Regions from separate parts of the Homo sapiens genome. Here region 1 is linked to region 2. The links come from fine-mapping of genetic effects on gene expression. A gene starts in region 2. The other region holds a variant in brackets. All regions are shown on one strand. Distances are from middle to middle. Region 1 has its middle 360 kb from the start of KIAA1217. Region 2 holds the start of OTUD1 (OTU deubiquitinase 1).

Region 1 (2,902 bases), 410 kb before region 2:
GATAATAATGGGAGACTTTAACACCCCACTGTCAAAATTAGACAGATCAACGAGACAGAAAGTTAACAAGGATACCCAGGAATTGAACTCAGCTCTGCACCAAGCGGATCTAATAGACATCTACAGAACTCTCCACCCCACATCAACAGAATATACATTTTTTTCAGCACCACACCACACCTACTCCAAAATTGACCACATAGTTGGAAGTAAAGCACTCCTCAGAAAATGTAAAAGAACAGAAATTATAACAAACTGTCTCTCAGACCACAGTGCAATCAAACTAGAACTTAGGATTAAGAAACTCACTCAAAACCACTCAACTACATGGAAACTGAACAACCTGCTCCTGAATGACTACTGGGTACATAATGATATGAAGGCAGACATATAGATGTTCTTTGAAACCAACGAGAACAAAGACACAACATATCAGAATCTCTGGGACACATTCAAAGCAGCATGTAGAGGGAAACTTATAGCACTAAATGCCCACAAGAGAAAGCAGGAAAGATCCAAAATTGACACCCTAACATCACAATTAAAAGAACTAGAAAAGCAAGAGCAAACACATTCAAAAGCTAGCAGAAGGCAAGAAATAACTAAAATCAGAGCAGAACTGAAGGAAATAGAGACACAAAAATCCTTCAAAAAATTAATGAATCCAGGAGCTGGTTTTTTGAAAGGATCAACAAAATTGATAGACTGCTAGCAAGACTAATAAAGAAGAAAAGAGAGAAGAATCAAATAGATGCAATAAAAAATGATAAAGGGGATATCACCACCAATCCCACAGAAATACAAACTACCATCAGAGAATGCTATAAACACCTCTACGCAAATAAACTAAAAAATCTAGAAGAAATGGATAAATTCCTCGACACACACACCCTCCCAAGACTAAACCAGGAAGAAGTTGACTCTCTGAATAGACCAATAACAGGCTCTGAAATTGTGGCAATAATCAATAGCTTACCAACTAAAAAGAGTCCAGGACCAGATGGATTCACACGCGAATTCTACCAGAGGTACAAGGAGGAATTGGTACCATTCCTTCTGAAACTATTGCAATCAATAGAAAAAGAGGGAATACTCCCTAACTCATTTTATGAGGCCAGCATCATCCTGATACCAAAGCCAGGCAGAGACACAACCAAAAAAGAGAATTTTAGACCAATATCCTTGATGAACATTGATGCAAAAATCCTCAATAAAATACTGACAAACCGAATCCAGCAGCACATCAAAAAGCTTATCCAACATGATCAAGTGGGCTTCATCCCTGGGATGCAAGGCTGGTTTAATACATGCAAATCAATAAATGTAATCCAGCATATAAACAGAACCAAAGACAAAAACC[G/A]CATGATTATCTCAATAGATGCACAAAAGGCCTTTGACAAAATTCAACAACTCTTCATGCTAAAAACTCTCAAAAAATTAGGTATTGATGGGACGTATCTCAAAATAATAAGAGCTATCTATGACAAACCCACAGCCAATATCATACTGAATGAGCAAAAAGTGGAAGCATTCCCTTTGAAAACTGGCACAAGACAGGGATGCCCTCTCTCACCACTCCTAGTCAACATAGTGTTGGAAGTTCTGGCCGGGGCAATTAGGCAGGAGAAGGAAATAAAGGGTATTCAATTAGGAAAAGAGGAAGTCAAATTGACCCTGTTTGCAGGTGACATGCTTGTATATCTAGAAAACCCCATTGTCTCAGCCCAAAATGTCCTTCTGCTGATAAGCAACTTCAGCAGTCTCAGGATACAAAATCAATGTACAAAAATCACAAGCATTCTTATACACCAGCAACAGACAAACAGAGAGCCAAATCATGAGTGAACTCCCATTCACAATTGCTTCAAAGAGAATAAAATACCTAGGAATCCAACTTACAAGGGACGTGAAGGACCTCTTCAAGGAGAACTACAAACCACTGCTCAATGAAATAAAAGAGGATACAAACAAATGGAAGAACATTCCATGCTCATGGGTAGGAAGAATCAATATTGTGAAAATGGCCATACGGCCCAAGGTAATTTACAGATTCAATGGCATCCCCATCAAGCTACCAATGGCTTTCTTCACAGAATTGGAAAAAAACTACTTATAGTTCATATGGAACCAAAAAAGAGCCCGCATCGCCAAGTCAATCCTAAGCCAAAAGAACAAAGCTGGAGGCATCACCCTACCTGACTTCAAACTATACTACAAGGCTACAGTAACCAAAACGGCATGGTACTGGTACCAAAACAGAGATATAGATCAATGGAACAGAACAGAGCCCTCAGAAATAGCGCCGCTTATCTACAACTATCTGATCTTTGACAAACCTGAGAAAAACAAGCAATGGGGAAAGGATTTCCTATTTAATAAATGGTGCTGGGAAAACTGGCTAGCCATATGTAGAAAGCTGAAACTGGATCCCTTCCTTACACCTGATACAAAAATTAATTCAAGATGGATTAAAGACTTAAACTTTAGACCTAAAACCATAAAAACCCTAGAAGAAAACCTAGGCATTACCATTCAGGACATAGGCGTGGGCAAGGACTTCATGTCTAAAACACCAAAAGGAATGGTAACAAAAGCCAAAATTGACAAATGGGATCTAATTAAATGAAAGAGCTTCTGCACAGCAAAAAAAAACTACCATCGGAGTGAACAGGCAACCCACAAAATGGGAGAAAATTTTCACAACCTGCTCATCTGACAAAGGGCTAATATCCAGAATCTACAATGAACTCAAACAAATTTACAAGAAAAAAACAAACAACCCCATCAAAAAGTGGGCGAAGGACATGAACAGACACTTCTCAAAAGAAGACATTTATGCAGCCAAAAAACACATGAAAAAATGCTCACCATCACTGGCCATCAGAGAAATGCAAATCAAAAC
Region 2 (2,902 bases):
GCCTCCGCGCCGCGTCCCCACCGGGCGCGTCGCAGCGATCGCCGCCCCTCTCCCAGCCCCTGGGGCCCCTCTCCGCCAAGTGCTCTTCGCCCCACGGACCGGGGCCGGGATCGGGGCTCCCCGGGGTCGCCGCGGGGCCTCGGTGCTTGGCGGCGGCCAGGGCCTGGCGGTGCTCGCTCAGTCGGAAGTTCCGATCGGGCCCCTCCCGTGTCGCGTCCAAGCCCGCGGGCTCGGGGCAGTCGGGCCGCAGCAGCTCCTCCAGGAGCCAGGCCGAGGAGCCCCGCCGCGGCGGGACCGGGGCTGCGGGCGCCGGGGCGAGCAGGAGGCAGCGGCCGCGCGGGGCAGCGGCGGAGCCCGCGGCGCCGGGAACGGGATCGGGCCCGTGCAGCAGGAGCCTGTCGGCGCCCAGGGCCCGCACGGTGATCTGTGCGGTGGACGTGTAGTGCGGCGGCAGCGGCGGCTTGCAGGACGCGCCGGGCGGGCCGGCGGCGGCGGAGGCGGGCGCGGCGGCCCCGGACACCACCTCGAAGCAGGAGGAGAAGGCGGGCATCTTGGCGGCGGGGACAGCGGCGGCTTCCCGGTGCTCGGCGGCCGCGGCGGGCTGGCACTCACCGGTCTCGGGCTCGGGCGCGGCGCCGGCGGCTCCCGGGGGCTGCAGCGAGACCTTGAAGGGGGTAGCGGCGGCGGGTGGCGCGGGGGCGGCGGCCGTGGGACCCGGGGCCCCGGCGGGGTAGTGGGTGCAGACGCTGCTGTAGAGCTGCATGTCCCTGCCCGCCGCTCGGCCCCTTATAGGCGCGGCGAGCCCCGGAGCGGGGGACACACCCTCCGGGCCCGGGGGAGGGGGCCGGCGGAGCGCGGTGACCCAACGGCCCCAGAATAGAGATGAGCGAAAGGCAGCCGGCCGCCGCGAGTCAGCAGCCGCGAATAGCGCCCGGGTCCCGGCCAAATTCCTGCTGCGCCACAGCGCAGGGGGGCGGGGACGGGACGCGAGCTCGACCCCTGCCGGTGCGCTCGGCCCGCAGACCCGGGGCGCCGCGCCCGCTGCAGCTGCTTCGGCCCGCGGCGGCCGCTGGGGACTCACGGAGGAAGCCGCCCGCCCCGTTGGAGCGCGTCCCGCCGGCGAGGAGGAGCGCGGTGCGCGCGGAGGCCCGGGAGGCGGGGCCGCGGTTGTTTACCTCAGGCCTCGCGGCCGCGTCACGTGGACTCACTGGAATGCGCGGCTCTTTGCGGCGCCCGATTCAGTCGCGCCTGCTCGCCCCGCCCACTCCGGCCCGCGCCCCGCCCCCTACCGCGCTCCGCCGACGTCACGGGCGTGGCCCTCGGCGCGCGAGCGCGCGCGGGCGGGGCGAGGCCGGGGGCGCGGAGGCCTGAGCAGTCCTGGGATCCTGGCTGGGCCTCCCGCCCACGTGACTCCCACGGACCGCTTCCCCCACCTGGGCACTGGGCACTGGTTTCTGCGCTGCGCCACTCTCCTCAGCGGCTGCAGTGGATGCTGCGGGATGGGAGCTGCTTGGGGCGAGTTAGCATGCTCGGAAAGCTTGCGTGGCAGGAAAGCTTCCGGCATGGGTGTGGAGAACGGAATGCTGCCTTAAAGTCTGTTTGGCCTCTGCTGGTCATGGGCTACCATCCCTGCTTGCATTCACTACTGCCTCTTTTCTTTTATCTTTTTAGAGATGGGGGTCTTACCTGTCTCCGAAGCTAGAGTGTAGTGGCGCAGTCCATAGCTCACTGCAGCCTTGACTTCCCGGGCTCAAGCGATCCTCCCGCCTCAACCTCCAGAGTAACTGGAAACCACAGGTGTGCACCACCGCACCCGGCTAATTTTCTTTCTTTCTTTCTTTCTTTTTTTTTAAGGCGAGGGTCTCACCACAGTTGCCCAGTCTGGTGTCGAACTACTGGCCTCAAGCTGTTTCCCGCCTCGACCTCCTAAAGTGTTGGGATTATGGGTCCTAGCCACCACTCGTGGAACCGCCGCGTCTTTTCCTTTTTTTTTTTTTCTTTTTCTTTTTGAGGCAAGGTCTTGCTCTGCCTTCCAGGCTGAGTGCAGTGGCGCCATCATGTCCCACTGCGACCTCGACCTCCAGGGCCCAAGTGATCCCCCTTCCTCAGCCTTGCCTTGGGCAGGGATTACAGGTGCCCAGCTAGTTTTACCACTGTGTCTTTTCTATGCATTTCCTTGGACTCACCGGTAAGGGTGAGTCCGCTAGTGGATTCTCTTGCCTTGCTAAGACAAAACCAACTTTGCACCTCTGACCTATGCCATTTGGCAAATATCTGGCTTGGGGGAAAGCAAGGAAGCCTTTTAGGCTTTTATAAACAAGCTTTCTCAGAATACCAAATGCAGTATCACTTAGGGCCCTTTGAGAATAGGTGTGAATGCTAGCCAGAGGTCAAAAGCGGTGGAGAAAGTCGTGACCTGCATTCCGGGGCAAGATAGACTATAGAAAATACTTCTACCGAGTCTTTTTGTAATACCCGCCTTTGTAAGGGAAAGCCAGAGGTAGTGGGAGACTTTTGCTATATTCTGAGCTGTGATCAAATGCTAAATTAACAGGGCCTAAACATTCGAATTGAACCCAGAGGTTGTCCTAACATTTTAGAGATAGGGAGACTGAACCTGTAGGTGATGTAGGCTGTACTCCGGTCCCCACCTTTCCGGTGGAATGTGAATTCCAGGAATTGAGAGACTTGGGTCTTGCTCTTATATTTCCATCCCCTAACACCGTGCTTGGCACATAATTGGACCTAATTAATATTTACTAAGTGAATGAGTAGATGGAAAGCGAGTTTCCAAGGTTTGTCAGACAGTGGTGAAGCCAAGATTACTATCCAGGTCCCTTGACCCTAGCCAGGGCTTTTAATTATCTTTGGGCAGTATGACTGGCAGGGTCCCAGCTCAGGT

What was found. PIP is the estimated chance that this variant, and not a neighbour inherited with it, causes the effect.
Region 1: its variant is fine-mapped to the expression of OTUD1 in whole blood (TOPMed, PIP above 0.99).

Annotation. Positions count from the first base shown.
Region 1 is chr10:23,851,735-23,854,636 of GRCh38, reverse strand. It overlaps a transcript of KIAA1217 not described here. Among named protein-coding and RNA genes, the nearest start is that of KIAA1217, 360 kb to the left of the region's middle. The variant G/A (reference allele first, on the strand shown) is at 1,361.
Region 2 is chr10:23,437,319-23,440,220 of GRCh38, reverse strand. It overlaps OTUD1 (OTU deubiquitinase 1), which reads right to left and starts at 1,146. Exons shown (of 1, transcript NM_001145373.3): 1 at 1-1,146. The coding sequence starts at 763. RefSeq lists silencers at 1-297, 438-777, 828-1,417.